4 separate regions of the Homo sapiens genome follow, and all the other regions are linked to region 1. The links come from fine-mapping of genetic effects on gene expression. A gene starts in region 1. Each other region holds a variant in brackets. All regions are shown on one strand. Distances are from middle to middle. Region 1 holds the start of TNRC6A (trinucleotide repeat containing adaptor 6A). Region 2 has its middle 14 kb from the start of LINC01567. Region 3 holds the start of LINC01567 (long intergenic non-protein coding RNA 1567). Region 4 has its middle 26 kb from the start of LINC01567.

Region 1 (8,106 bases):
CCACAGGAACAAAGACAAATGGAGAAAAAGGGCTTATTTAAAATTAAATTTGTACAGCGTGTTTCTCTTTACAGGACCTTGTTTCTGGTTCCATTCCTAATGGATTGATGCAAGTAAAATGAAAATGACAACACTAGCAGTTTCATTTATTTATTTATTGAGAAAAGGTCTCACTCTGTCACCCAGACTGGAGTGCAGTAGCATTATCTTGGCTTACTGCAACCTACCCCCTGCCCCAGCCTCAAGCGATCCTCCCACCTCAGCCTCCTGAGTAGCTGGGATTACAGATGCACACCACCACACCTGGCTAACTTTTGTATTTTTAGTAGAGATGGGGTTTTGCCATGTTGCCCAGGCTAGTCTCGAACTCCTGAGCTCCAGCAATCCATTTGCCTCGGTCTGGCAGATTTAAAGCCAAATACAATATGAAGCCTGTTTCCCTCCGCACTGATAACCCACAAATGTAACCATAAATGTAACCCTCCAGCCTGAGACCCCCTCCTCTCCCCCTCCCCAGCTCCTCTCTCCATTCTCAGGTGAAGCTTTACATTTTCAAAGAAACATTCTTTGTTGCATAATCAATGTTGTGTTCCTTTGTTTTACACTTTCTTAGAGCAACATTCCTATCCTTCTGTGCACTTGCCATAGTTTGTAATTATACACTTTTTGTTTGCTTAAGAAAAAAAAAAAATCGGCCAGGCACGGTGGCTCATGCCTAACCCCAGCACTTTGGTAGGCCGAGGCGGGTGATCACTTGAGTCAGGAGTTCGAGACCAGCCTGGCCAACATGGTGAAACCCTGTCTCTACTAAAAATACAAAAATTAGCCAGGTGTAGTGGCACACGTCTGTAATCCTAGCTGCTGGAGAGGCTGAAGCAAGGGAATCGCTTGAACCCGGGAGGCAGAGGTTGCAGTGAGCTGAGATCATGCCACTGCACTCCAGCCTGGGTGACGGAGCAAGACTATGTCTAAAAAAAAAAAAAAACAAATCTGTCTGCCTTGCTAGACTTCATCCACCACTGTAGTTCCTCACAAGAACCAGAGAAGCCAGTCCTAGCACAGTGCCTGGCACATAGTAGGTGCTCAATAAATACTGTGTGAGTGAATTGTCATTTTGGCATTCAGGGGTACACAGGTGAGACAACGGTTAAGGTTTAAATCTGAGAGTAATCTGCATTCAGAGAGTACTTAAATACAAGAGAATAAATGAGATTACCCATCCTAAAGGGAGAGTAGAGAAGGGGGAAGAACAGAAGTCTGGAACAAAGCCTTGGGAGTGGGGAGATCTCCAACATTTATTTGATATAAAACAGAAGATGTTAGCAAAAGATACCAAAAAAAAAAAAAAATGGCTAGAGAGGTAAAAAGAACTCCAGAAGAATATACTGTCAGGATGGCCTAGCAAAGAGATTCTCTTAAGAAGGAGGGAGAGTTAGGTTGTGGCAAATGTAGCTAAGAAGTAAATCAAGATGAGGACAGACATGTTTCCATTGAGTTTGGCACCCTCAAAGTCATTTGCGACCTTCATAAGAGCAGTTTTGCAGGAGGGATGGGGATATCAGGTTAAAGAGAGCTGGGAGAAGGAGGAGAGCCAGTGGAAGGTGCTTGTGTTGAACAGTTTCCCAAGAAAGCATTGTTGGGAACGAGAGCAGAAAAATGGAGCTGGAGAGGAATGACGCATCAAGGGAGTTTTGGGCTTTTTGCTTTTTAATGAAAGTTACTAGAGTTTGTGTGGTGATGGGAAATATTCAGTAGAGAGAATGATTACTTAGTAAAAAGAAAAGATAGTAACAGGAAAAGATCCCTTAGAGGGTCCCACATAAGGAATCAGTGCTGATCTTATATTGTCATTTTTCTTCGATGTATGCACCAAGTTTAAGTAAGAGATAATTTAAAAGTGACTAGCATGACCTCATATAAAACACTCTACATTGCAGCCCAGGAGGGCTCAGATGGGATGTCCAATCACTGTCAACAAACCTTCTGGAAATCACATCTTTTTTTTTTTTTTTTTCCCTAAGGTGGAGTTTCACTGTTGTTGCCCAGGCTGGAGTGCAATGGTGTGATCTCAGCTCACTGCAACCTCTGCCTCCTGGGTTCAAGCGATTCTCCTGCCTCAGCCTCCCAATTAGCTGGGATTACAGGCATGCACCACTATGCCTGGCTAATTTTTTATTTTTACTACAGGCCGGGTTTCCTCATGCTGGCCAGGCTGGTCTCAAACTCCTGACCTCAGATGATCTGCCCACTTCGGCCTCCCAAAGTGCTGGGATTACAGGCATGAGCCACCGCGCCTGGCCAAGAAATCATATCTTATTAGCTTTGCTGGAGCTGGGAATTAGTTCCAGGCTTTCTCAACCTTGGTGCTATTGGCATTTTGGTTCAGATACTCCCGTGTTGTAGGGGACTGTCCTACGCATCGTAGAATATTTAGTAGAATCCCTGGTCTGTAGCTATCAGATACCAATCAGTAGCATCCAGTGTGACAACCAAAAAGTTCATTGCTAAATGTCCCCAGGGGTAGGGATGGGGGCAACATTGTCCCAATTAAGAATCACTGAGTCATTAAAACCTAAAAAAGTCTAATAAAAAAAAAATCAGCCAATCTTAACAGCTGTGCAAATGTTGATAAATATGACTGTTTTCATTGCCTTATGTTGTTGTGAAAAATTATTCCTAAACCTGGTATGAAAGCATATTGTGCCATTACGTATATGTTCATATTTTTAAACTCCTAATGAAACACCATAGTAACTTTTAAACATTTTAAGTAGAAAGGATTATGAAAGAAAAACAAATATGTGTGTAGGTAAATGAACCTCAGGGATGATAGCAGGAAAAGGAAAGTCACTAGCATTTATTCGGTGCCCACTACATTTTATATTTTGTAAACCTGATTTTTTTTTTCAAAAAAGTGTTTTTTATATGCTCATCGCAAAAAAGAAAAAAACAGATACACTAAAAGAAGAAAATGAAAAAAAGTCATAATCAGTTAACGTTTTGGTGCATATGTTTCATGACTTTCTGTGCATTCATTCACTAGCTTAACCTATCGGAGAGGACAGGAACCCAACATGTCTAGGGAAGTTTTGTTTGTTTTTAACGGGAGAGATTCAAGCATGTTGTAAAGCCAGTTGAAGCTGGGCGCGGTGGCTCACGCCTGTAATCCCAACACCTTGGGAGGCCGAGGGGGGCGATCACCTGAGGTCAGGAGTTCAAGACCAGCCTGGCCAACATGACGAAACCCCGTCATTACTAAAAATACAAAAATAGCTAGGCGCAGTGGTGCGTGTCTGTAATCCCAGCTACTTGGGAGGCTAAGGCAGGAGAATTGCTTGAACTCGGGAGGCGGAGGTTGCGGTGAACGGAGATCGCGCCACTGCACTCCAGCCTGGGAGACAGAGCGAGACTCCGCCTAAAAAAAATGATAATATAATAAAAAAATAAAAAAAAAAGCCAGTTGAAGAACTTAGGTTAGAAAAAGGAGAATGGGATGATCCACAGAGTGGGGTTTCTGAGAAAGTAAAGGTTATAGATTTTAAGCACAGAGGAGGAATTATCTTTAAATTAGAAGAAAAAGCTTGATGAGAGGTTGGAAAGAACACACGCAAGTGAAAATATGTATCTTACTGTATCTACATGTATGTGTATTGTTGTATCTACCTGCAGATATGTATGTCTTATTGTATCTACATGTAGGTATGTATGTATACTTTTAATGTACACATATGCATCTGTGTCTACATATATACATATCTTAGTCTATCTACATGTATGTATCTTACTGTGTCTACACTAAGATGTTTCTTACTGTGTGAGCTACGTTGGAACCTGCTTTTTCATTTATTCTATTGCAACCATTTCCTCCATGCCGGGATTATTCCTCCACATCATTTTTACAGTGTCCTAATACATGCCAGTAGCTGTTTTTGAAGCCATCTAGTAGCGCTGGACATTTTGGCTGTTTGCAATTTTTCACCATCATCAATACCACAGCTTAGTATCTCGAAGGTGAAATATTTGCAGATACCCAGAATTATTTCCTGAGCAGAAAATCCGTGCAGGCGGAACTGCTGAGTCAAAGGTCGGTGGATAAAAATCGCTTTTAAGCCTCACAACCCGCCTCAGGTATGCATTCTTTACCTGAGGAGGAACAGAGAAGCAGAGAGGTTAAATAACTGGCCCAAGGTCAAAAATAATTAGAAGTGGCTGAATTCAAAAGCCGCGCGGGCTCATCAGGCTGCAGTTGGGGTAAAATTTGCGTTTTAGGCAATTTTTTTTTTTTTTTTTTTTGGCGTGTGTCAGTGGGGGAGGGGCCGGGCGGCGGGTAGGAAACTTGTGTCGCAGCAAAGAAGGAGGAGGAGGGGAGGGACTCCCCTCCTCGGTCAGACCGGAGCCGGCCGCACCGAAAAAGGTTGGACTCGGGACTCCGCAGGCCCCCCCAGCCACTCCGCGGGGCGCCTCGGAGGCTGTGACCTCCAGGGAGGTCCGGCTGGGTGCAGCGTGACACGCCGGGGCGGTTGCCAAGGACCTGCCCAATCTGCGGGTCCAGTTGCTAGGGCCTCCATCTTGGGGGCCAGTGGCCGTGGCGCCCCCGGAAGGGGTTGCCGAGTGGGGCATTCACTTCCGGTCTGGGGCCTGCGGCGGCGGCGGTGTCGGCGGCGGCGGCGGCGGCGGCGGCGGCGGCGGCAGCGGGTCGGTGTAGAAAATGGCGCTGGTGCAGCGGCTCGGGCCTCTCCCCGCGGCGCTGCGGAGGGCTTGAGGCTCGCGAGCCTCCTTCGCCGCGCCCCACTTGCTCGTGCACTTTACACACATGAGGTGAGCGGAACAAGGGCCTCCCTCCGGGCGGGAGGAGCCGCGGGCGCTGCCGCAGGGCCCGCAACCCGCGGCGGCGGCAGCAGAGGCGGCGGCGCCGGGCGTCCCCGAGACTTCGGGCCTCGGCGGGAGGGCGCAGGCTGCGTTGCTGCGGAGGCCGAGCGGGCGGCCCGGGGGAGCCTCGCTGCGCCGCGCCGCGGGGGCCAGGCCGGGGTTGCGCCTCGCCCGCGCCGCGGGACCGCAGTCCGGGCTGCAGCCCCGCAGCTTTGTGAGTCCCCCTCCCCCCGTCCTCTCCCCTCCCCCATCCGGCCCCGGCGCGAGCCTCTGCCGCAGCAGCTCCGTTTTCACGCGCATCTCGTTTTTGTGTGTGTGTTTTTGTTTTGTTTTTGTTTTTGTTTTTTTGTTTCAGAGAATTGGAAGCTAAAGCTACCAAAGACGTAGAAAGAAATCTTAGCAGGTAAGATGGGCGAGCTTTCCGTCTCCCGCCCCACGATAATCGTATATTTCTACTCCGATTCGCCTTTTCTGGGTTGAGAAGTTCCCCCGTGACATTTTCTTCCGCACCCGGAGAGCAGACATTCGGGAGAAGCGGCCTGGGGGAATACTGGAGGGATTGCGGGGAGATGCGTAATTACGCGTGTGTTTCTTTCTTTAAAAAAAAAAAAAAAAAGCGCAAAGCAATTCTTGTAAACTTAGTTAAAGCATTCTCACCCTTTTAGAATTTAATTAGGGGACTTGTGCATTAATTACTATTGTAAATGGTTGCAGGCATTGTGTGACTCATGATTGAGGCGGCCCTTATGGCGGGCTGTCAAACTGTTTTGGCTTCCCCGTTATTACTTTGTAGCTCAAATTGTTGCTTTTATAAAAAGATACTATGTGTTCGCATTCCCCCCCGCCCCCCCCCCCCCCCCATACATTGTAGTCAGGCGGATTCTGTTGCATTGGACACAGTTTTGTCCTTGAACTTTACCAAGCATAAGCTGCGTTTTGTTTTCCTTCGAAACTCCATTTCTGTCCATGTTCGGTGTGTGCTCTTTTTATCAGCTGGTAAAATAATTAAAAATCTTTTCTCCAGAAGAGGTTATCGTTCCTGTTGGGCCCTGCTGCTTTTGCATCACCGTGAAGGGAGAATTTTTTTTTTTTTTTAAACGATGTCTTTATGGAATGGAAATATTTAGCTTCATTGAGCTGTAATTGCTTAAGCATCAAGGAATTGTACTGTATTTAACTCCTTTTCACATTCATTTTCTTTCCTACCGTCTTTTCCTTTCTTATTCCCCTTTTTCTTTTGCATCATATTGGGACACTCAGGGAAACTTAGCCAATTAACCAAATCCGTGAATAGCTTTCTTTTTTTCTTTTTTTTCACTTGTTGAAAATAAAATGAAATTTCTCCTATCTCAGGTTTTAATGTAGTTTGCTCTTGATGATTGCGGGTTTTAGGTTTACATTGGGGTTTTTAACACTCACATTTCAAATCGTCTGAATATTTTGCACCGCGTAGAATTGTTCCAAATTGCTGGCCTATTGAGTTTCATAAGATACTAATCTGTTCAGGTGATCGTTAAAGAATGTGTTCAGATGGTGAAGGATAGGCATCATTGGTTTACCCAGTAAGGGATTCTCTGTTACTCAAAATAATTATGGGATCATTTAAAGGAAATTAAGTCTGACATCACTGACTATTTGTGGTATATTTACATAAATTTTGTCAAAATCTAGTAAGGAAATGTTAAGATATGAAACCATTAAAGAAAACAGGTTGAGCCATTAAGGTGTAATATCAGCAGAACAGAGCTTAGAGGTCTGTTTCTCCTTCCATTTTTGTTTTATCAGGTAACTATATCAGTATAATTCCTATGAAGGTGCTCTAGTACTTAATTAAAAATTGTCTGTGCCACAGGTATAATTTTAATATTAGGTAGAACTCGAGTCTGGGTTGGCTATTTATCAGAGTTTGAATTCCAGCTCTGCTACTTGCAATATGACCTTGACTCTTGGCAAGTCACTTAGCCTCTCTGTCCAATCTATAAAACGAGCGGCGTGGGCCAGCCAGTTGCTGAGGTCTGTTAGGCCCTTTGGGTTACATAAAAGGAGTAAAGTGCTGTCCGTGTTCACAGAGGGCATGTACAGTCTAGTAGAAAGACTATCATAAATGCATAAATAACAGTAGTACTAGGTAGATGACGTAGGAATCAAAAGATACCATCCCATTCATGTGCTTGAGAATATTCAGTCGGTCAGAAGGCATGAAAGGAAAAACAAATATCAAAGAGATTGTAAGGCAGTGTGTACTAAGGATCCAATGAGAGGGGAGCATTTCTTGCAGGTTAAAAGTGTTCTGAGGAAGGAGAGAGGTGATTAGGTGGGCAGATGCTTCCTTCATCTCCATCTCTAGCTGTGTTTCCTTTTTCACAAAAAAGAATGTATCTGTCTTTACCCATAGTGCTCTCTCCAGGAAATCAAGGCATTGTATTCATTGAGTAACCATTTTTTGAGCATTTTCGATATTTCAACTGTGGGACTGGGCACTAAGCCAGGGAAGAATGTAAGTAGTTAAATTTATTGATTGCTTACTATGTGCCTGGCACACTTTTCCTAAGATTTTACATGGACTCATCTGATCCTTGAAAAACCCTGTGAGGTAGGTAGTATTGTTATCTCCGTTTTACAGATGGAGAATTTGATGTATAAAGAGGTTAAGTAACTTGGAGGAGACCATATCACTGGTAATTGGAGTAACTTTTTAGGCTTCGAACTTGCAAAATTTGAAAATTTCTTTTGGTAGGCGGGACCCACAGATGCATGCAATACTTCTAGATCAGTTTTTTCATCTGGGCACTTGACATTTTGGACCAGATAATTTATTATTTTGAGGGTTGTTCTGTGCATCACAGGATGTTCAGCATCCGCAGTAGCACTCCCCGTCCAGTTGTGACAATCACCAATGCTTCCAGATATTGCTAGATGTCCCTGGGAGTGGCGCAGAATCGACCCTGGCTGAGAACCACTGCTCTAGATCTTCATTAGGAATTGTAACGTGAAAGCCTCCAAACTTTTAGATGTTGAGTTAATTTAAACATCTTTTGGTCGAGTGCTGTGGCTCACACCTATAATCCCAGCACTTTGGGAGGCCAAGGCAGGTGGATTGCTTGAGGTCAGGAGTTCGAGACCAGCCTGGCCAACATAGTGAAACCTCATTTTTACTAAAAATACAAAAATTAGTTGGGCGTGGTGGCATGCGCCTGTATTCCCAGCTACCCGGGAGGCTGAGTCAGGAGAATTACT
Region 2 (8,106 bases), 72 kb before region 1:
TAGCCAAGAAAGACAATTCAATCAGCAGAGAGGCCTGAGAATTCTCTTGAACTTTGTTTAAAAGCACCCTGAAATTTGAGCTTCTTGGGAGCATTTGCTTCCAACCATTTTCTAAATTGAAATTGCATTCCACTTCCCTAAGACCACAGCCTTTTTCTAAGACAGGATTATGGGAACTCTGAACTATCTAAGCAGAAGTTGTGTGTCTGAGAATAAAACTGGAATGAACAAATCTATAAAGCAATAGAACAATAACCCCAACAAAGACAGCATGATTCACATTGCAAATGACAGGAAGAAAAAATAAACAAGGGAGCGTTCACCTCAGAAAAGACAACCACGATGACAATGATGAGACCTGAGATGACAAAAATAAAAGGACAGCAAGCCCTGTGGAAAACAAAGCCCTTCGGAATCGATTTTTAAAATCTAGCTACATCCTGTTTCCAAGAGACAAGCCTAATGCAAAGTGAATCAAAAGCATTAAGTGGAAAAAAGTGGGGGTGATCTAAAATACATCAGAAATACAAAGGAAATAGAAGAGTAATACTAATTTTAAAAAATACTTCTATTAACTGCCAGGCGCGGTGGCTCATGCCTGTAATCCCAGCACTTTGGGAGGCTGAGGCGGGCAGATCACCTGATGTCAGGAGTTCGAGACCAGCCTGGCCAACATGGTGAAACCCTGTCTCTACTAAAAATACAAAAATTAGGCAGGCAGGCATGGTGGCGCACACCTGTAATCCCAGCTACTTGGGAGGCTGAAGCACGAGAATCACTGGATCCCAGGATGTGCAGGTTGCAGTGAACAGAGATGGCACCACTGTATTCCAGCCTAGAGTGAGAGAGCGAGACTCTATCAAAAAAAAAAAAAAGAAGCCTAGTTAACGTGATAGGCATTACTTTAGACTAAAGGACTGTACTTTAGATTGAAGACCTCTCTGAAGAGATAATACTTTGAGCTGAGATCTTAGAAAGAAAATTATTAACTTTTTTTGGCAGGGGCAGACCAAGACTTTCTCTGTGGCCCAGGCCGGGGTGCAGTGGCGCAATCATAGCCCACTGCAGCATCCACCTCCCAGGATCAAGTGATCCTTTCACCTCAGCCTCCCAAGTAGCTGGAACCACAGGCATAGCCACCACACCCAGCTAATTTTTTAATGTTTTGCAGAGATGGGGTCTCAATATGTTACCCAGGCTGCCATGTGCACTCAAATTTGGTGCACTCAAATTCCTGGCCTCAAGCAATCCTCCTGCCTTGAACTCCTAAAATGCTGGGATTACAGGTGTGACCCACTGCACTTGGCTTATTAGCCAATGTTAACATATTAAATGAATCTATATATTGCTAGGCAGAGCAGCTTACAAAATGCCAGAATGCATAATCAAACTGGACAGGCTCAATGAATGATTACACTGTGCTTAATGGCTAAGCTCAACACCTTGATATAGCTTTATGATTTGCAGAAAATTTTTAGTAATAGTCCCTATAAGAATCACCTGTAGACCAGGTACGGTGACTCACGCCTGTAATCCCAGCACTTTGGGAAGCCAAGGCGGGCGGATCACCTGACATCAGGAATTCGAGACCAGTCTGACCAACATGGTGAAACCCCGTCTATACTTTAAAAATACAAAAATTCGCCAAGCATGGTGCTAATGTCTGTGGCATGCACCTGTAGTACCAGCTACTCCAGAGGCTGAGGCAGGAGAATCACTTAAACCCAGGAGGCGGAGGTTGCAATGAGATGAGATCGCACCACTGCACTCCAGCCTGGGTGACAGAGTGAGACTTCTTCTCAAAAAAAAATTAATAAAAAATAAAAAATAAAAAAACACACAACAACAGAAAAGAATCACCTGTAATTTAAAGTAAATTTCAGTAATTTTACTAAATTACTAATTTTAACCTAAAACTCACCAATTTTGGACAAAATCAGACACATAACCAAAAACATTCTGGACAGAATATTATTTCACGGTAGATGGTATAATTTCTCCCAAAGATAAAAACATTTATGATCATCTATGAGGTAAAGAAAAGGCTGGGCACAGTGTCTCACGCTTGTAATCCCAGCACTTTGGGAGCCCAAGGTGGGTGGATCACTTGAGCCCAGGAGTTCAAGACTAGCCCGGGCAACATGACAGAACCCCATCGCTACAAAAAATACAAAAATTTAGCTGGGCATGGTGGCAGACGCCTGTGTTCCCAGCTACTCAGGAGGCTGAGATGGGAGGAACACCTGAGCCCAGGAGGTAGAGGCTATAGTGAGAAGTGATCGTGCCACTGCACTCTAGTCTAGGTGACACAACAAGATCCTGTCTCAAAAAAAAAATTTGAAAGGCGGGGGGGAACACTGATAGAAAAAAAGATTTTGTCAAAAAACATGAAATTCTGCTTTGTGGTTTTAAAGTATTTTCACTATAATCGCCATTTATTTTTATTATAGGCCTTAGATAAGGGGAACAGTCTTTTAAGAGTTATTCCTGGCCAAGCATGGTGGCTCATGCCTGTAATCCCAGCACTTTGGGAGGCCAAGGCGTGTGGATCACCTGAGGTCAGGAGTTCGAGACCATCCTGGCCAACATGGTGAAACCCCGTCTCTACTAAAAATACAAAAGTTAGCCAGGCGTGGTGGCACATGTCTGTAATCCCAGCTACTCGGGAGGCTGAAGTAGAAGAATTGCTTGAACCTGGGAGGCGGAGGTTGCGGTGAGCCAAGATCGTGCCACTGCACTCCAGCCTGGGCGACAAGAGTGAAATTCTGTCTCAAAAAAAAAAGAGTATTTCGGTAGAAATATAAGAATTGTTGACAAAACTAAAATTGAGCTAAAGATTAACAAACTATTCTCAGTCTGAACGAACAAAATACAAAAGAAACAGGATTTAAATAACAGAATTAATAAATGTTAGATAATAGATACATAGCAAGAAATATAGGCCTGGTGCCCTGGCTCACACCTGTAATCCCAACAGTTTGAGAGGCCAAGGCAGGAGGATCACTTGAGGCCAGGAGTTTGAGACCAGCCTGGGCAACCTACGGAGACCCTTGTCTTTACAAAAAATTTTTAAAAATTAGCCAGGCATGGTGGTGAGTGCCTGTGGTCCCAGCTACTC[A/G]GGAGGCTGAGGCAGGAGGATCACCTGAGCCTGGGAAATGGAGGCTGCAGTGAGCCATGCACTACCACTGCACTCTAGCCAGGGTGACAGAACAAGACCTTGTCTCAAAAAAAAAAAAAAAGAAAAGAAAAGAAAAGAAAAATGAGGCCGGGCGTGGTGGCTCAGGCCTGTAATCCCAGCACTTTGGGAGGCCAAGGCAGGTGGATCACCTGAGGTCAGGAGTTCGAAACCAGCCTGGCCAACATGGCAAAACCCCGTCTCTACTAAAAATACAAAAAAAAATTAGCTGGGCATGGTGGCGCATGCCTGTAATCCCAGCTACACAGGAGGCTGAGGAAGGAGAATCGCTTGAACCCGGGAGGCGGAGGTTGCAGTGAGCCAAGATCGTGCCACTGCACTCCAGCCTGGGCAACAGAGCGAGACTCCATCTCAAAAAAAAAAAAAAAGAGAGAGAGAGAGAAAAAGAAGTACATATGCTTTTCAAAAATACATAGAACATATATTTAAAATGATAATATATCAGGCCAAATAAAAACTTAAAAAAATTCCAAAGGCAGAAATTGCACAAGTCAAATTATCTGTTAAAAACAAACTATAAATAAATAACACCAGGTTAACAAAAAGGGCAAAATATTTAGAACTTTTAAAAATCATTTATAGAAATTATTTTGGGGGAAAGAGGAAATTAAAATGGCAGCTTCTGTTTATGTACAAAACAACAAAAGGAACCCTACCTTTCAAAACTGATAAGATGTAAACAACCCTGTAATCAGAGGCAAAATTGTTATGTTAAGTGTTTCTATTAAGAAAGAATTTTAAAAATAAAATGTTTCACATAAAAGAAGTATGAAAAAGAACAAAATGACCCAAAGTAGCAGGTAGACAGAATCAAACCTAATAAAAGCAGACATTACTGAAACAAATAATAGAAATAAATGTTAAATAAAACCATGACCTGGGTCTTTGATAAGATCAATAAAATAAAACTCTAGAGAGGCGGGGCATGGTGGCTTACACCTGTAATCCCAGCACTTTGGGAGGCCAAGGCAAAAGAATCACTTGACCCCAGAAGTTGGAGAACGGCCTGGGAGACATAGCAAGACGCTATCTTCTACAAAAAATACAAAAATTAGCCAGGCATGGTGGTGCATGACTGTGTTCCCAGCTACTTACTTGGGAGACTGAGGCAGAAGGATTGATTGAGCCTGGGAGGTCAAGGCTACAGTGAGCAATGGTCACACCACTGCACTACAGCCTGGGTAACAGAGTGAGACCCTATCTCAAAAAAAAAAAAAAAAAAAAAAAAACAAACAAACAAAGAAACAAACAAACAAAACCTCTAGAGAGACTTATCAAGGAAAATAGAGCACATATTTCAAAGTTTGGAAATAAAGGCCGGGCAGGCGGCTCATGCCTGTAATCCCAGCACTTTGGGAGGCCGAGGCGGGTGGATCACTTCAGGTCAGGAGTTCAAGACCAGCCTGGCCAACATGGTGAAACCCCGTTTCCATTAAAATACAAAAAGTAACCAGCCATGATGGCACGCACCTGTAATCCCAGCTATTTGGAAGGCTGAGGCAGGAGAATCGTTTGAACCCAGGAGGCAGAGGTTGCAGTGAGCTGAGATCGTGCCACTGCACTCCAGCTTGGGCGACAGAGCAAAGCTCCATCTCAAAAAAAAAAAAAAAATGGAAATAAAAAATGGAGTTTAGCCAAAAATGCAGTGGAGACTTAGAAAGCTGTAAGAGAATATTTTGTCAATTCTATGCTAATAACATTGCATTTTTGAGATAATTTTATGCCACTTTTTTTTTTAAGCCAAGTTATATGGTGAATGTTGCTTACTAGTAGATTTCCTAAAACAGCATTTCCTACATTCCTAAAATATGCTGGGTTTTCTTTGGTACTATCTTATTTAAGATAAGATATTCATAAGTGAGTTTTGTTATATAGTTGTTCTTTGTGACATGATTTTCAGGTTTTGATGTGGCTTTGACAAAAAGTATGAACATCTTTTATTTCTCCGTGCCTGGATACAATTTATATAGAAGCAGAATTGCTTATTTCTTGGCTATTTGGAAGACTTTATCTAAAACTCCTGTGGGTCTGGTGAATTTGGGGTGGGAAGCTGGTTAACATTTACAGTTTTGTTTCTGCTTGCTGTTTTATTTCAGAGTTCTAAAACTGTGGACAATTAGTTACATTTTTCTAGAAAATAATCTACTTCATTCAGATTTTCAAATTTCATTGCACAGTTTTGCAAGGTACAAAGCCATTTCATTTCCTCTTTGTTATGATATTTCCTCCACTCTGTTTCTTTGTGTTTGTTTGTTTGTTTTTGAGGCAGAGTCTCACTCACTCTGTCCCCTAGACTGGGGTGCAGTGGCACGGTCTTGGCTCACTGCAACCTCTGCCTTCCCAATTCGAGCAATTCTCCTGCCTCTACCTCCCAAGTAGCTGGGATTACAGGCATGTGCCACCATAACCAGCTAATTTTTGTATTTTTAGTAGAGACAGGGTTTCACCATGTTGGCCAGGCTGGTCTTGAACTCCTGACCTCAAGTGATCTACCTCGGCCTCCCAAAGTGCTGGGATTACAGGTATGAGCCACAGAGCCCCACCCACCCTGTTTCTAATGTTGTGTTTTTGAGCTTTCTTCCTCTTTTTTTCCTGATTAGTTGACTTTTCAATTATTTATTTTACTCTAACCAACTCACCCCAAAGAGTTTGCTCTTACATTAATTAATTCTATTTTTTTGTGTATTTTCTTTTCTTTTTCTTTTTTTTTGTTTTGAGTCAGGGTCTCACTCTGTCACTCAGGCTGGAGTGCAGTGCAGATCATTGCTCACTGCAACCTCTGCCTCCCTTACTCAAGCGATCCTCCCACCTCAGCCTCCCAAGTAGCTGGGACTATAGGCGTGCGCTACCACACCCGGCTAATTTTTGTATTTTTTGTAGAGTTGGAGTTTTGCCATGTTGCCCAGGCTGGTCTTGAACTCCTGAGCTCAAGCAATCCACCCGCCTCAGTCTCCCAAAGTGCTGGGATTACAGGCACTTTGCAGTAGGACCCATTGCACCCCACCATTATTTTATTTTCTAATTCGCCCATTTATTATTTTATTCCTTCTTATTTCTTAGAATAATTTGTTGTTTTTCTAACTTCTTTGAGTGAATACTAAACTCACTTACTTTCTTTGTCCTTCTCTACTTATGCCTTTGTTTAGGGCTCTGTTCTACTTAACAATCCAGTTTTAGTCATAGGACAGAGGTTTTGCTATGTATTAATTTCATTTTGTTATTCAAGATGTTGAGAAATTTGGGTTTAAATTTTTTCTTTGATCTGTCTGTCTCTGTGTCTCTCTCCTCGTGCCCTCAAAAAACGCTCCCTTTTACCAAGTGGTGGGTGGTAGAATTTTCCCCTTCCAATTTTGTTGGTCTTGCTCTGTTACCCAGACTGGCTGCAGTGGTACAAACATGGCTCACGGCAGCCTCTGTCCCCTGGGCTCAAGCAATCCTCCTCCTTCAGCCTCCCAAGTAGCTGGAACTACAGGTGTGCACCACTATGCCAGGATAATGTTTGTATTATTTGTAGAGACAGGGTCTTGCTATGTTGTCCAGGCTGGTCTCAAACTCCTGGGCTCAAGCAATCCTCCTGTCTTGGCCTCCCAAAATGCTGGGATTACAGGCATGAGCTATCACACCCAGCCCTATCTTTCTTGTACTGTGACTAGAAAGTGGTCTCTACTCTTTCTCCATTTTGAATTTTGTTAAGATTTTCTTCATGGCCTGATACATCATCTATTACCATGAAAATTCCATAGGCACATAAAAGATGTATCCTCTATTATTAGTGCATAGTATTCGACATAAACTACAAAGTCGGCCTTATTAAATATACATTGAGATCCTCTAAATTTTTATTTTTAATTTTTTTATCTACTGCAAGCTGGGAGAGGTGAGCTATAGTCATATGTTAGTCTTGGTGTCTGTTGGAAGCTGATGCTGTAATTATTTTGATGCCATTTTATTTTATTTTATTTTTTTAACTTTTTATTTCTGTAGGTTTTGGGGGGAACAGGTAGTGTTTGGTTACATGAGTAAGTTCTTTAGTGGTGATGCGTGAGATTTTGGTGCAGCCATCACCCAAGCAGTATACACTGAACCCAGTTTGTAGACCTTTATCCCTCACCCCCTTCCTACCCTGTCCCCCTGAGTCCCCAAAGTCCCTTGTGTCATTCTTATGCCTTTGCATCCTCATAGCTTAGCTCCCACTTATGAGTGAGAACATACGATGTTTGGTTTTCCATTCCTGAGTTACTTCACTTCGACTAATAGTCTCCAATCCCATTCAGGTTGCTGCGAATGCCATTAGTTCATTCCTTTTTATGGCTGAGTAGTATTCCATCATTCATATATATATATATCAGATTTTTAATCCACTCGTTGATTGATGGGCATTTGGGTTGATTCCACATTTTTGCAGTTGTGAATAGTGTGAATTGTGCTGCTATAAACATGCGTGTGCAAGTTTGATGCCATTTTCTGTTGTGTTCTCACATTGAAGCTTTAGCCTAACTCTTAGTGCCCTTTGTCATTATAAAATGCCCCCATTTGTCTAGGTTGCCTCCCTTAACCTTAGATTCAACATTGTCTGATATTAATATCATGAATTCAGCTTTCTTTTTCTTTTTTCTTTTTTTTTTCTTTTTTTTTTTTTTTTTTTTGAGACGGAGTCTCGCTCTGTCGCCCAGGCTGGAGTGTAGTGGAGCGATCTCGGCTCACTGCAAGCTCCGCCTCCCGGGTTCACGCCATTCTCCTGCCTCAGCCTCCCGAGTAGCTGGGACTACAGGTGCCCGCCACCACGCCAGGCTAATTTTTTGTATTTTTAGTAGAGACGGGGTTTCACCGTGTAAGCCAGGATGGTCTCGATCTCCTGACCTCGTGATCCACCCATCTCGGCCTCCCAAAGTGCTGGGATTACAGGCGTG
Region 3 (8,106 bases), 57 kb before region 1:
CCAGGTACTCAGAAGGCTGAGGCAGCAGAATCTCTTGGGCCCAGAATTTTGAGGCTGCAGGGAGCTAGGATTGCACCACTGCACTCCAGTCATGGCAACAGAGCAAGACCCTGTGTCTTAAAACATTACATATATATAGGCTGGGTATGGTGGCTCACGCCTGTAATCCCAGCATTTTGGGAGGCTGAGGCTGGAGTATCACCTGAGGTCGGGAGTTCAAGACCAGCCTGACCAACATGGTGAAACCCCCTCTCTACTAAAAGTACAAAAATTAGCCAGGCGTGGTGGCGCATGCCTGTAATCCCAGCTACTTGAGAGGCTGAGGCAGGAGAATTGATTGAACCCAGGAGGTGGAGGTTGCGGTGAGCCAAGATTGTGCCAAGCCAAGATCATGCCATTGCACTCCAGTCTGGGCAACAAAAGCAAAACTCCATCTCAAAAAAAAAAGAAAAAGAAAAAAAGAAAAGAAAAGAAAAATAAATTACATATATATATGTATATGTATATTTCAGCGCTTGCACTTTACTCAGTGAATAAGTGCAATTTACAAAGCCTTCATGATCTGGGCCAGTCCCTCGGCTCTACCCGACTTCCCCCACTGGGCTTCAGTGCCTCTGAACTACTTAAGCAGTCTGAAACTGGCATCACGCTTGCCTCCATTTTTATCACCAAGGCCATGCTTTCCACCTGGCATTGGCCACCGGAACAATTAGACTCAGCAGAGATGCAGTCTGCTCTAGGGCCTACTTCTTACCCTGCCTTTCCCGCCCCCTCTGAGAAGAGGTAATTATTCACCCTTAATTAAGGCCAGCCATGACCTTAGATGGGAAAGAACATGGAACATTTGATGTCATTGAATTACTCAGTGAGAAAGTCATTCTTCCTTTGGTTGCTTTGCAGCACTTCTGATTAAAAAGGAAAAAGTTTCATTTTGTGCTAGTGTGCCTTTAACACCTCTCTGAGCCTTGCCAACCTCCCTTTGAACAGAGTGAGCCTGAGTCTCTGAAAGTTCAACAGGAAAAGGGTATTAGCTGGAATGCGACGACACAATTAGTCTCGTTGTTTTTATTTTTATGGGTTTTTTTTTTCATGGCAAGTGATGCTAATTTCACATTTTCCACAGTGCGATCCAGATTTCTTCAAACCACATTTATTTGACCAATGAAAGGGGGATCAATTTAAAGAGAAATAAAGCCTTAAATAAATAACAATGTGAGTGGTACTCAGGACTAAAATAGAGAGGGGAAACTTGAGGGATGAGTTTGGGAAAATCCTGAAATAGATCATCTGTACAATCTCTTCTAATAAAAATCCTGGCGGGGCATTCACACTTATAATCCCAGCAGTTTGGGAGACTGAGTTGGGTGGACTGCTTCAGCCCAGGAATTCGAGACCAGCCTGAGCAACATAGTCTCTACAAAAAATTTAAATATTAGCTGAGTGTGGCAGCGTGCCCCTGTAGTCCCAGCTACTCAGGAGGCTGAGGTGGGAGGATCACTTGAGCCCAGGAGGCAGAGGCTGCAGTGAGCTCAGATTGCAACACTGCACTCCAGCCTGGGCAACAAGCAAGACTCTGTCTCAAAAAAAAAAAAATCCTATAGCTCCCATAGGATTCCCTGGTTGTTTGTTGAGTCATGCCTTTGTTGGACACTAGATTCACAGTCTATGAGGGCAGTGACTGTGTCTGGGCAGTGACTGTGTCTTCTCAGCCTTTGCTCCCAGCTCCTTACAAAAGTGCTGGCAAATTCAAGCACTCCAGTACCATTCGTGGGAGAGGACTGAGTCGCCAGTGATTCATCATCCTGTCCTCAGCTGAATTGTGTAATCCCCATGGTGCTGGCAGGAGGAGGAATAACAGTACTTGTTTTAGTAGTAAGAGTAGTAATAGTAATAGTAGCACCAACAGTAATAGAAGTAGTTGTTATAGTAATAATAGCAACCATTTACTGGGTTCATTATATGAGCCAAGTATTAGGCTTAATGCTATATGCATCCACTCATTTTGTTCTCGTTATGACCCTATGAGGCAGCTACTTTTTTTTTTTTTTTTTTTTTTTTTTTAGACAGAGTCTCACTCTGTCACCCAGGCTGGAGTGCAATGGCGTGATCTTGGCTCACTGCAACCTCTACCTCCCAGGCTCAAGCAATTCCCATGCCTTAGCCTCCCTAGTAGCTGAGACTACAGGTGCATGCCACCATGCCCAGCTAATTTTTGTATTTTAAGAAGGGACGGGGTTTCACCGTGTTGCCCAGGCTGGTCTTGAACTCCTGAGCTCAAGCAATCCACCCACCTCGGCCTCCCAAAGTGCTGGGATTACAGGCGTGAGCCACCACACCCAGCCAGCTGTTCTTATTATCTCCATTTTACAGATGAGGACATTGAGGCTTAATGTGGGAAAATAGTTTGCCCAAAGCCACTTAGCTGGGAAGTGGCAGAGCTGGGAGTCTAAGGTCAGTCTCACTCCCAGGTTGGTGCCCTTCAGGACTGCAGAAACAACCCTTCCCGCAAGGGTCTCCCAGATGCAATGCGTTGCACCTTTCTGGAGGCTACGGGGCTGCTGTTTCAGCAATTCATGTATAATTTAAGGGAATTTGGAAGCAGTCTGGATATTTAAATGATGTCTTAGTAATGTAAAAATCTGCTTCTCTTCAATCTGTATTCTTTTCAAATTCAGTAGACTATCTGAGAACTCTCCTGTCTGTACTCCCTCTCCAAATACCTGCTTGGCCCCACCTGTGCCCTGCCCAGCCTCCGATCTCTCTCATTTCACTGAAGAAATGAGATTCGGATGGAAAAATACTGGTACAAGCTTGACCGAGCTTCTCTAACAGACACTGTGCATCACGCATCAGCTGCTGCTGTTGCTATGGTGACAGCCACAATTTCTCCCAGACAGCTTGGGTCTGAAGGGAGGGTGGACCCTTGGGGAACAAGTGGATCTCTCCAACCTGTCAGTCCCTCTCACCTTGCCCGTTTCTCTCACCTCCCCCACTCCCGCCAGCCCCCACACTTCCTTACATGATGCTGACAGGGGGTACCAGCACCCCCAGGCCATCGTAATTAGCATCTGGCCGTGATCCCAGTCTCCTGGCAGCACATTCCTCATCTTCCTCGCCAGCCAATCTCCTTTCCCCAGCAACCCTCCGACAGCACTGCAGCAGCTGCCGCACCGACAGCCTCCGCGCCAAGGTCACCCACCACCAGCACCAGCAATGACGAAGCACCCGCCTGCTCCCTGGGTGGACATGACACCGTTAATGCCTCACTGTGTCTAAACCATTTGGGGTCAGAAAATTGTGATTCTAAAAAAAAGAGAGGTTGTCCTTAGGAAGATGGGTGAGGCTAAACTCCAGTTGCTGGAGGGGCTAAGAGATTCATACGGCTTAAGTTTCATCGCTTAAGGTCTCCAGGAGAGAGGGAACTGAGCAGGAGGGGCATAAGACATTCCAGAAGGGTGAGGAAAGAATGAGACAAGTTTGCGCATTGACGCGGCTTGGACTCTGGGGTGCTGAAGATGCTGGTGGTGATGAGGTGGAGGATGCTGGTTGGAATGATGGTGATGGCAATGGCTCATTTATTCAGCATCCGTGATGTGCCAGACACTGCACTAGGCGCTGTGCAGGCACTATGCCCTGCAGTTCTCGCACTGCCTGGGGAGTAGAATGTGGTACCCATGTGGTGGCTACTGTCACTGCGCCCATTTCACAGATGGGGAAATCGAGCCTAGAAAACACCCCGAGGAAACAATCACACGAATCCAAAATGTGAGATGTTTCCATGACAACTAGCCTGGATGAGCTCTTAAAAATATCAATGTCAGGCCAGGTGCAGTGGCTCACGCCTGTAATCCCAGCGCTTTGGGAGGCCGAGGTGGGAGGATTGCTTGAGCCAAGGACTTCAAGACCAGCCTGGGCAACATAGTGAGACCCTGTCTTAATAAAATTAAAAAATAAAAATCAGTGTCACTTACAAAAGGGTAGAAATCTTTTCTAGAAAAAAAGAGTAAAGAGACAAAAACCAAATGCAATTTCTGATCCTACATTGGATCCTGACCAGAAAAATTAAAACAGTCATAAAAAGACATTTGAGGGACAG[T/C]TGGTGAAATTTTAATATGGACAGCATGTGAGATTGTGTTAGGAAATCATTTTTAATTCTCTTCAAGAGTGATTCGGGAGTTGTGTTTGTGTAGGAAAGTGTTCTTTGTTTATTTTATTTTATTTATTTATTTTTTGAGACGGAGTCTTGCTATGTCACCCAGGCTAGAGTGCAGTGGCGTGATCTCGGCTCACTGCAAGCTCCGCCTCCCGGGTTCACGCCATTCTGCTGCCTCAGCCTCCCCAGCAGCTGGGACTACAGGCGCACGCCGCCACGCCTGGCTAATTTTTTTTTCTTTGTATTTTTAGTAGAGATGGGGTTTCACCGTGTTAGCCAGGATGGTCTCAATTTCCTGACCTCGTGATCCGCCCTCCTCGGCCTCCCAAAGTGCTGGGATTACAGGCGTGAGCCACCGCGCCTGGCCCTTTGTTTATTTTTTACTTGTTTATTTTTTTTGAGACAGGGTCTCACGAAGTCACCCAGGCTGGAGTGCAGTGGTGTGATCACGGCTCACTGCAACCTCAACCTCCTGGGCTCAGGCGATTTTCCCATCTCAGCCTCCTGAGTAGCTGGGACTACAAGCATGCACCACCATGCCTGGCTAATTTTTGCTATTTTTTGTAGAGACAGGAGACTTGCCATATAGCTGAAGCTGGTCTCCAACTCCTGGGCTCAAGTGATCCTTCCACTTCAACCTCCCAAAGTGCTAGGATTACAGGCATCATGAGCCGCTGTGCCTGGCCTGTTCTTCTTAGATGATACAGGCTGAAGTATTTAGAGAAGTGTCATGATGCCTGTAACTTACTTGTAGATATACTTACATACATATGCATGTATTTACATATAAATACAGCAAAATATTAACAATTTTTGAACCTAGATAGTTCATCATTGTGTCATCAATAGTACTATTCTGGCTGGGCACAGTGGCTCATACCTGTAATCCCAGCACTTTGGGAGGCCAAGGCAGGAGGATTGCTTGAGCCCAGGAGTTCAAGATCAGCCTGGACAACATAGTGAGACCCTCATCTCTACAAAAAATATTTTAAAACTTAGCCAGGTGTGATGGCACACACCTGTAGTCCCAGCTACTCAGGAGGCAGATGTGGAAGAATTGCTCGAGGCCAGGAGTTTGAGACCAGCCTGGGCAACAAAGCAAGACTCCCTCTCTACAAAAATTTTTTAAAAATTAAAAATAAAAATAAAAAAAGATAGTACTATTCTTTCAACTTTTCTGTGTGTGTACAAACTTTGATAATGAGAGTCCTGAGGGTAAGTAGAAAAGTAAGTAACTTGACCAAGATTGAAGGTCACACAGCTATCAAATTTCAAAGTGAACTCAAATCTGGTCCACTGGGCTTCAAAGCTATGTTCTGGAACTGTGTTCCACAGCCTTCCCAGAGACAGGGCTTCGCTCACCGAGGGATGCCTGTAGGTCCACTTTGCAAGGGGCCATGTCCCAGGCAAAGATAAGGAAGTAGATTCTGGCAGGGTGTGAGAATCCCACCAGCTCGAGCAGTGAAACAATCTTCCAACAACTCATTCAGGAAATTTATTTTATTTATTTATGTTTTTGAGACAGGGTCTCACTCTGTCACCCAGGCTGGAGTGCAGTGGTGCAATCACGGCTCACTGCAGCCTCAACCTCCCTGGTTTAGGTAACCCTCCCACCTCAGCCTCCCAAGAAGGTGGGACTACAGGCCTACGCCACTGTGCCCAGCTAATTTTTCTAATTTTTGTAGAGACAGACTTTTGCCAGCCCAGGGCTGGTCTTGAACTCCTGGGCTCAAGCGAACTACCCACTTCGGCCTCCCAGAATGCTGGGATTACAGGCATAAGCCACCATGTCCGGCCTCAAGAAATATTTTCGTGAGAACCGTGTAATGGGCACTAGCTGAAGTGATACAGTTGTCAATGACAAAAGTCCTCACCCTCGTGCAGCTTGGTGCATCCACGTCAGGTAACATTCTCAGAAGAGCTTGGCATCAGATACCATCCAAAACATTTCCATCATAGTTGCAGCAGAGGAAAGGGAGCTGGGAACCATTGTCTCTAATCTATGATCTTTTTTATTTTTCTTTTTTTGAGACAGGGTTTGGCTGTGTCGCCCAGGCTGGAATACGGTGGTGTGATCATAGCTCACTGTAGCCTTGACCTCCTCAGCTCAAGTGATCCTCCACCTCAGCCTCCTGAGTAGCTGGAACTACAGGCTTGTGCCACCACGCCAGCTATTTTTTTATTTTTAGTAGCAACAAGGTCTCGATGTGTTGCCCAGGCTGGTCTCAGTTAAATTAAGTTTAAATTCAATAGAGGATCACTTGAGCCCAGGAATTCAAAGCTACGGTGAGCTATGATCATGCCACTGCACTCCAGCCTGGGTGACAGAGCGAGATTCTGTCTCAAACTATATATAGATATATAAATAAAATAAAATAGTATGAAATGATTCAGCGTGCCCTAAACAGTGAGTTATCAGTTTGCCAGGATGGCATTAATAATCTGGAACTAATTGGAAAGAGACTTTGCAAGTTATAGAATCTGGATTTTAGGTGAAAGTGGGCCATCCTTTCCTCTCCGTTGCAACGGAGTTCCACATAAAAGCAGGCAAATTCAATGTATTGTGACAGAAGCTGAGACTCTGTAAAGTAATTCTTTTAAATATTATTTATTCTCTTACAACACTGCCCCCACCACACACACACACACACACACACACACACACACACACACACACATCTTTGTCTAAGTCTGAACAATCATGTGACGTAAACTTTTCTTAAAGGGATCACAAGAGAGATTATGGAAAGACTGCCAAAGTAACCATCTCTGTCAAGCCATCCAAATTCTCCACCCACCAGGCAGTGGTAGCTCACACCTGTAATCCCAGCACTTTGGGAGGCCAAGGCAGGAGGATCACTTGAACCCAGGAGTTCAAGACTAGCTTGGGCAACGTATTGAGACCACTGTCTCTACAAAAACAAAAATTTTTTTAATTAGCCAGTTGTGGTGGCATGCGTCTGTAGTCCCAGCTACTCAGGAGGCTGAGGTGGGAGGATTGCTTGAGCCCAGGAGTTCAAGGTCGCAGTCAGCTATGATGACACCGCTGCACTCCAGCCTGAGTGACAGATCGAGACCCTGTTCAAAAAACCAAAAACATTCTCCAACCAACACCAATTTTATGTAATTTTATAATCCCAACATGGGGGGAAATAATCAAAGAAACACAAGCTGTGTTGTGGACAGACAGAACACATTGGAATGAATTGCAAGAGAAGTACAAAAAGATATTTTGCATGAGAAATGCTGTGATTCTTAGATAGTACGTGCCTGAATTTCCTAAGATTTCAGGCTGCCGAAGGATACAGATGCATTTTAGCTTTAAAAGAGGCTCTCCAAGCCAGGCACTGTGGTTCATATGTGTAATCCCAGCACTTTGGGAGGCCGAGGCAGGTGGATCACCTGAAGTCAGGAGTTCAAGACCAGCCTGACCAACATGGTGAAACCCATCTCTACTATAAATACAAAAAATTAGCTGGGCATGGTGGTGCACAACTGTAATCCCAGCTACTCGGGAGGCTGAGACAGGAGAATTGCTTGGACCCAGGAGGCAGAGGTTGCAGTGAGGTGAGATCACACCACTGCACTCCAGCCAGAGACTCTCTCTCTCTCTCTCTCTCTCTCTCTCTCTCTCTCTCTCTCTATATATATATATATATATATATATATATATATATATATGCACACAACACACACAGAGGCTATTCAGTATCTAAATGGGGACTCATTTTTGATATGGGAGTACCCACATAGGGTCTAGGAATTCATACCACCTCTTCCTTTGCATTCCTGGAGACCTTTGCTGCTCTGTCTGCTGGAGGTTACACAAGTTCATCATCACAGAGTCCAGGATGTCCCACCCTTGGTTTTTCTTCCTACTCTTTTCCCACTTGTCCCAAGCAATCCTGCTTATCTTGCCTATTAGAACTATTCCCCACCAATGCATTAGGGCT
Region 4 (8,106 bases), 32 kb before region 1:
TTCTAGACATCTAACACCTCACCAGGAGCTGTTCTTAGTGAAAACTCAGGGAGGAAAAACAGGGGCACTAATATTTATCACAGTTCCTGTAGGCACTAGACACTGCACTAAACTACTTATCACAAATCTCAGAGGTCTCCGATTTGAGCCAAAGTCATATTTACATTCGGGTAAACCGGTAATATATTCCTCACTGTAGTCTACTTAAAATAATAATTTAATAAGCCGAATAATCCTATGAAAAATAATAATAAACACACTCACACTATTAAGATGATGTAGTGAGATACTGACTCATTTTATTTCCAGCGGATTTCCCTCCCTTGTTCTAAGAAGGACACCAAACTTTGTGTTCTCTCACGAGAAGAGGGTTGCAGTGGCTCACATCTGTAATTCCAGCACTTTGGGAGGCCGAGGTGGGAGGATCACTTGAGTCCAGGAGTTCAAGACCAGCGTAAGCAAAGTGAGATCCAGTCTCTACAAAAAAAAAAAAATTAGGCCAGACGCAGTAGCTCACGCCTGGAATCCCAGCTCTTTTGGAGGCCGAGGCAGGCAGATCACTTGAGGTCAGGAGTTCGAGACCAGCCTGGCCAAGGTGGTGAAACCCCGTCTCTACTAAAAATACAAAAATTAGCCCAGCATGGTGGTTGCACACCTGTAATCCCAGCTACTCGGGAGGCTGAGGCAGGAGAATCGCTTGAATCCGGGAGGCAGAGGTTGCAGTGAGCCGAGATCGCGCCACTGCACTCCAGCCTGGGTGACAGAGCGAGACTCCATCTCAAAATACATAAACAAATAAAATAAAAAATTATCCAGGCATGGTGTCATGCACCTGTCATCCTAGCTACTCAGGAGACTGAGATGGAAGGATTGATGGAGCCCAGGAGGTCAAGACAAGCCTGGGCAACATGGCAAAACCCCATCTCTACAAAAAATACAAAAATTATCTGGATATGGTAGCATGTGCCTATAGTCCTAGCTACTCAGGGGGCTGAGATGGGAAGATCAGTTGAGCCCAGGATGTCACGGCTGCAGTGAGCCAAGACCGCCACTGCACTCCAGCATGGGTGACAGAGTGGGACCCTATCTCAAAAAAAAATGTTTAAAAAGAGGGTTGATTAACATGGAAGAAAGCAGAAGTAACTCCGAAAACAACCCTCATTTCTGGCTTTGTTTTTCAACATATTATTATTCTGGGACATGTATGGGGTCATCCCCAAGGACAAGAGGAGAAACACAAGTATCTCAAAGGGAGGAAGGGCAGAGCAGTGACAGCCAAGGGGAGCAGAAGAGTCCCCAGGACTAGAAATGAGCCAGAGACTGGCAGACCCCACAAGAATAGAAGACTCACGCCTCCCCTCTTACAACACCCAGGGAAAGTGACAGTGCTTAAGAGGGAAAGGACCTCATGGTGGACACTCGGTCTCTTGCCTGAGGCTCCCAGCATAGCCAGGCCCCCGTCTCCGACCTCAGCACAATAGCAGCCAAGCCCCCTGTTTCCAAAACCCCAACACATGGACACAATGACCCTAACTGCAGTGATCCAAGTATAAGACTAGTGAGCCTTGCTGGGCGCGGTGGCTCACGCTTGTAATCCCAGCACTTTGGGAGGCCGAGGCCGGTGGATCACGAGGCCAGGAGATCGACACCATCCTGGCTAACATGGTGAAACCCTGTCTCTACTAAAAGTACAAAAAATTAGCTGGGTGTGGCAGCTTGTGCCTGTAGTCCCAGCTACTCAGGAGGCTGAGGCAGGAGAATCGCTTGAACCCTGGAGGCAGGGTTGCAGTGAGCCGAGATCGCGCCACTGCACTCCAGCCTGGGTGACAGAGCAAGACTCTGTCTCAAAAAAAAAAAAAAAAAAAAAAAAGACTAGTGAGCCAAGGGAAGCCCAGTCAGGAGGATCACTTGAGGCCAGGAGCTCAAGACCAGCCTGGGCAACGTAGCAAGACCCCATCTCTACAAAAATGTAAAAATTAGCTGGGTGTGGTGCTGTACACCTGTAATCCTAGCTACATGGGAGGCTGAGGCAGGAGGATCATTTGAGCCCAGGCGGTCAAGGCTGCAGTGAGCTATGATCACACGACTGCACTCCAGCCTGAGTGACAGAGCGAGACCCTCTTAAAACAAATTTGGAATCACTGTGAGCCATCTCTGGACCACTGCCCTCTGATGGCTGAGCTGAAACTTTCTCCAGACCTGTTGGGCTGTTGGGGCCCTGCAGCTTTAATTTGATTCAGAAAACCCACATCGGATAATGTGACATTGCTTGCTGGCACGGGAGTGTACTGGGCCCTGTGCTAAGTTCTTCACGAGCACCATCTCATTTAACCCCATAATAAAGGCATTTCTGTTTTCCTCCTCTTCTAGCTGAAGAAAACGAAACTCTGGGGAGTGAGGTCAGGCAGCGAGCCAGTGGTGGGAAGGAAACTGTACTCCAAGGGTATCTGATACTGATTGAAGGCTGTGCATAAAATAATCCCAAGTTATGATGTCTACCTGTGTCAACTATGTTTTCCAGCTGCAAGTCACAGAAGCCCAGTGCATAAAAGCCCAGAAGCTCTTATGTTTTTACTTTTTATACATATATATATTTTTTGTTTTGTTTTTTTGAGACAGTCTCGCTCTGTCACCCAGGCTGGAGTACAGTGGCGCAATCTTGGCTCACTGCAACCTCCGCCTCCTGGGTTCAAGTGATTCTCCTGCCTCAGCATCCTCAGTAGCTGGGATTACAGGCGCGCACCACCACGCCCGGCTAATTTTTGTGTTTTTAGTAGAGACGGGGTTTCGCCATTTTGATCAGGCTGGTCTCGAACTCCTGACCTCGTGATCTGCCTGCCTCGGCCTCCCAAAGTGCTGGGATTACAGGCGTGAGCCACCCCGCCTGGCCTTCCAAAAGTTTTTACAGCTGTGGCCGTGTTTGTGGACATTCAGCATGGAAAAGCAAGTCTGTTTCACGGGTGTTTCAAGCAAAACACGGGATTGAGTCTTTTCAGCCCTGGTGGTTAATTTGGCCACGTCACCGTCACCATCCCTGAACCAATCACTGGTTGCCTAGGGAGAAGGAGTGCACTGATTGGCTCAACCTCAGTTCTAGACTCAACCCCCTTGAGCTTGGAATTAATGGGATTCCCACCAGCATTTGGCTGAGATTCTGTCCCTCAAGATAGGATTACGATGTTATTGACTCAAGAAGGGAACAGCTAATGGTGGAGAGGAAAAAACTCCACTGCGCTTTTTATGTGGTTGAAAGTATGAGGGCCGAGAGCGGTGGCTCGCCCCTGTAATCCCAGCACTTTGGGAGGCCGAGGCGGGTGGATCACGAGGTCAGGAGATCAAGACCATCCTGGCTAACACGGTGAAACCCCGTCTCTACTAAAACTACAAAAAATTAGCTGGGCGTGGTGGCGGGCGCCTGTAGTCCCAGCTACTCGGGAGGCTGAGGCAGGAGAATGGCATGGACCCAGGAGGCGGAGCTTGCAGTGAGCCCAGATCGCGCCACTGCACTCCAGCCTGAGCGACAGAGTCAGACTCCATCTCAAAAAAAAAAAAAAAAAAAAGAAAGTATGAGAACTCCCTGGAAAGAATTCATGCTAAAGGTGCTTGTTCAGCTCAAATACAATGGATCAGAAATGAGGGGTGGCCAGGCAAAGCAGCTTACGCCTGTAATCCTAGTACACTGGGAGGCTAAGGTGGGAGGATTGCTTAAGGCCAGGAGTTTGAGACCAGACTGGGCAAAATAGTGAGACTCTGTGTCTACAAAAATTTTAAAAATTAGCCACGCGTGGTGGCTCGCCTGTGGTTCCAGCTACTCAGAAGGCTGAGGTGGGAGGATTGCTTGAGACTAGGAGGTCAAGGCTGCAGTGAGCTACGATTGCACCACTGCAGTACAGCCTGGGCAACAGAGCGAGACCCTGTCTCAAAAAAAAAAAAAAAAAGAAAGGAAAGGAAAGGAAGGGAAGGGAAAGGGGAGGGGGAGGGAGGGAGGGAGGAAGGAAGGAAAGAAGGGCTTTCATATTAGAAGGGCACACTCAGAACTAGCTCTTCCCTTTAGCCATTCCCCTTCTTTTTGCCTTGGTCATGGATGTGATGACCGGAGCTGAAGCAGTCATTTTGTGGCCAAGAATATCACAGAGACA[C/T]GAGAACTGATAGCATTAAAATGCTTACACCAGCTAGATAGGAAAGATGAGTTCTGTTGTTCCGCAGCACTAGTTAGTGAGTGACTATGGTTCACCGTAGCTTATTGCATATTTTCAGAAAGCTAGGAGGATTTTGAATGTTCACAACACTGAGGCCTGAAAGTTTGAGGTGATGAATATGCTAATTACGCTAATTTGATCATTGCACATTGTATACACATATTGAAATATCACTGTCTTCTATAAATATGTACAATTATTACATGTCAACTAAAAATAAAAGGAAAAACTGCTGAAGCAATGACAGAAACTACCTACGTCTGGGTATCTTTTGATATCTTTCTGTCTAATCCTCTTCTGAATCGTTGTGTCTCTTGTGTCTCTCTTCACTTCAGTACAAAGACTGGTGAGAAAAACAAATTTTTACTGTTTAGGTATTTGTTAAGTACAAATGTGGGCCAGGCACAGTGGCTCACACCTGTAATCCCAGCACTTTGGGAGGTCAAGGTGGGCAGACCATTTGAGGCCAGGAGTTCGAGACCAGCCTGGCCAACATGGTGAAACTCTGTCTCTACTAAAAATACAAAACTTTGCTAGGCATGGTGGCACGCACCTGTAGTCCCAGCTACTTAGGAAGCTGAGGTGGAATGATCACTTGAGCCCAGGAGGTGAAGTTTGCAGTGAGCCAAGATTGCACCACTGTACTCCAGCCTGGGCAACAGAGGGAGACCCTGTCTCAAAAACAAGTAAAAATATGGTCCGTAAACCTTCAACATCAGCATTACCTGGGAGCTTATTAGAAATGCAGACTGGGGCCGGGCATGGTGGCTCACGCCTGTAATCCCAGCACTTTGGGAGGCCAAGGCGGGTGGATCACAAGGTCAAGAGATCGAGACCATCCTGACCAACATGGTGAAACCCTGTCTCTATTAAAAATACAAAAATTAGCTGCATGTGGTGGCAGGCACCTGTAATCCCAGCTATCGGAAGACTGAAGCAGGAGAATCACTTGAACCTGGGAGGCAGAGATTGCACCACTGCACTCCAGCCTGGTGACACAGTGAGGCTCTGTCTCAAAAAAAAAAAAAAAAAAAATGCAGGCCAGGCACTGTAGCTCATGCCTATAATCCCAGCACTTTGAGGGGCCGAGGCAGGAGGACCGCTTGAGCCCAGAAGTTTGAGACCAGCCTGGGCAACATAGCGAGACCCCGACTCTACAAAAAAAATTAAAAAGAAAACAAAAAATGCAGAATCTCAGGCCTGCCCCAGATTCCAAATCAGAATCTACAGGGTCCTCAATGGATTCACAAGCACATTCATGTGGAAGAAGCGGTGGTTTGGGTATTATAAGAGTGTGGTTGAATGCAATCCAAGCAATATACATAGGCTGCCTGAACCCCCCAAGATTGGATTAAATGCCATTTGAGGCACCAGCAGTAGTGGGAAATGATCATAGGCAGTTGGAGTGAGAGACAAGGAACACGGCACAGTAGCCAGGAAGACCGGTGTGTGGTGCGCTTGGAGATATATTAAACACCCGTACATTCTTTACTGTGTTCCAGGGACCATTACAAGCACTGTGCAAATATTAGCATGTTTAGTCTCCTTGGCAGAGTTAGGAATCATTTCACAAGTGCATAAACTGAGGCATGGATAGAGTAAGTCACAGAGCTGGTAAATGCCAGAGCCAAGATGGAAACCCACTCGATTTATTTCCAGAGCCTGTGCTCCCTTCCTTGAGGTTTCCCTAGGGTCTTTGGGGAGGTTTTTTTTGTTTGTTTTTTTGGCAGAGTCTTGCTCTGTCGCCAGGCTGGAGTGCAGTGGCATGATCTCAGCTCACTGCAACCTCTGCCTCCTGGGTTCAAGCGATTCTCCTGCCTCAGCCTCCCAAGTAGCTGGGATTATGGGCATGTGCCATCACACCTGGCTACTTTTGTATTTTTAGTAGAGACGGGGTTTCACTATGTTGGCCAGGCTGGTCTCGAACTCCCAACCTCAGAGATCTGCCCACCTTGGCCTCCTAAAGTGCTGGGATTACAGGGGTGTGCCAACACTCCTGGCCCTTTGGGGAGAATTTTAAGGGAGCTGAAGAACCTACAGAGCGGGTATTGAATGGATAAGTGTTTCATGTTTCTGTTTTTTACCCACCTAGTCAGTGTGATTTGGGAAGCATGGGTTAAACATTGATTATCTCATTTAATCTTCAAAACTTCATTCCATCAAATCATATCTGTTGAGCACCAGTGTGTATGTGCCATGAACTGGGGATACACTGATGAACTAAGTCCTATTCGTGCCTCCACAGACTTAGTGAGGAGAGAGACAGGCAAAGAATTCTCACATGGTGTGAAAGTGGGCAGCACTACAGAGCACAGAAGAGAGACAATCAACCCAGGAGGACTTCCAGGAGGAAGAAAAGAGCCAGATGAGACCAAAAGGATGACTAGGAGATATTCAGGCAAAGCTGGGTTGAGTAAAATGTGCTCTTAGACCAGGCACGATGTCTCACACCTGTAATGCCAGCAGTTTGAGAGGCCAAGGCGGGAGAATTGCTTGAGGCCAGGAGTGCCAGACAAGCCTGGGCAACATAGCAAGATCCCATTTCTACAAAAAATTTTTAAAATGAGCTGGGCATGGTGGCGTGCACCTGTCATCTCAGATACTTGGGAGGCTGAGGTGGGAGAATCGCCTAAGGTTAGGATTCCAAGGCTGCAGTGAGCTATGATTGCGCCACTGCACTCCGGCCCAGGCAACAGAATGGAACCCTGTCTCTACCAAAAAAAAAAAAAAAAGCTTCTGAGAAAATAACAAATACAAAAGCCCAGAGATGGACAAGAGAGCACTGAGCTGAAGGGCCACAGATACCATTTCTTTAACAGTCAACCCTGAGGACTTGAGGGGTAAGAATTATTAATTTCCATTTTACAGATATGGACACCGAAGTTCTAAGAAGCTCAGCAATGTGCCAAGTGCTAGTGTTACACAGGAAATAAGTAGCAGAGACAGGCTTTAAATCTAGCTCTGATGCCAAAGGCTATGTTCCTTCCACCATGCTTGATTCTGCCCCTTCCAGAATCAGGGACCCTTTAGGTTCTGGGTGCCCAAAGTTTTTGACCCACAGTAACTCTAGTATCTGGTAATAGCTGGGATCAAAAGGTGCCCCAGAGGCTGGTCAAGGTGGCTCACACCTGTAATTTTAGCACTTTGGGAAACTGAGACGGGAGGATCACTCAAAGGCCAGGAGGAGTTCAAGACCAGCCTGGGCAACATAGTGAGACCCTGTGTCTGAATTTTTCTTTTTTTTTTTGAGACAGAGTCTCACTCTGTTGCCCAGGCTGGAGTGCAGTGGTGCGATCTTGGCTCACTGCAATCTCTGCTTCCCAAGTTTAAGCAATTCTCCTGCCTCAGCTTCCCAAGTAGCTGGGACTACAGACGCATGCCACCATGCCCGGCTAATTTTTGTATTTTTAGTAGAGACAGGTTTCACCATGTTGGCCAGGCTGGTCTTACGAACTCCTAACCTCAGATGAGCCTCCCCCCTTGACCTCTCAAAGTTTTGGGATTATAGGCATGAGCCACCGTGCCCAGCCTATGTCTGAATATTAAATAAATAAGTAAGTGGTGCTCCAGGGGGTTCCCTCACACTCTTCTCTTTCTCTTGCTGCACCCCTGAACCCTAATGACCTATGGATCTTCGTGGTAGAGGTGCCATATTGGCTGTGCTCAGTAACTAGGCTCAAAGTGCTGACCGCTGTGCCTGTCTGGCTGTCTTAGCCAGTGAGATGCTGTCCTTAGGCAATAGCCTACCTATATGTTTCAGCCGATCCCTGACCCCACACCTCTAGACATTCTCCACTAGCCAGCATGTTGAACATCTTTTCTCTTGCTTCTTTATAGCAAACCACTTGTTCCCTGCCACCCCATGTTCCGCCATGGCTACCACGTGGGCTGACGCCTTCACAGACAT

What was found. PIP is the estimated chance that this variant, and not a neighbour inherited with it, causes the effect.
Region 2: its variant is fine-mapped to the expression of TNRC6A in atrial appendage (GTEx, PIP 0.91).
Region 3: its variant is fine-mapped to the expression of TNRC6A in whole blood (INTERVAL, PIP above 0.99).
Region 4: its variant is fine-mapped to the expression of TNRC6A in blood mononuclear cells (TOPMed, PIP above 0.99).

The regions. Positions count from the first base shown.
Region 1 is chr16:24,725,029-24,733,134 of GRCh38, forward strand. TNRC6A (trinucleotide repeat containing adaptor 6A) reads left to right here and starts at 4,623. Exons shown (of 25, transcript NM_014494.4): 1 at 4,623-4,818; 2 at 5,225-5,272. The coding sequence starts at 4,814. RefSeq lists a silencer at 4,652-4,961.
Region 2 is chr16:24,652,918-24,661,023 of GRCh38, forward strand. It overlaps a transcript of TNRC6A not described here. Among named protein-coding and RNA genes, the nearest start is that of LINC01567, 14 kb to the right of the region's middle. The variant A/G (reference allele first, on the strand shown) is at 3,119.
Region 3 is chr16:24,667,908-24,676,013 of GRCh38, forward strand. LINC01567 (long intergenic non-protein coding RNA 1567) reads right to left here and starts at 3,155. Exons shown (of 3, transcript NR_122072.1): 1 at 3,020-3,155. It also overlaps a transcript of TNRC6A not described here. The variant T/C (reference allele first, on the strand shown) is at 4,097.
Region 4 is chr16:24,692,808-24,700,913 of GRCh38, forward strand. It overlaps a transcript of TNRC6A not described here. Among named protein-coding and RNA genes, the nearest start is that of LINC01567, 26 kb to the left of the region's middle. The variant C/T (reference allele first, on the strand shown) is at 4,140.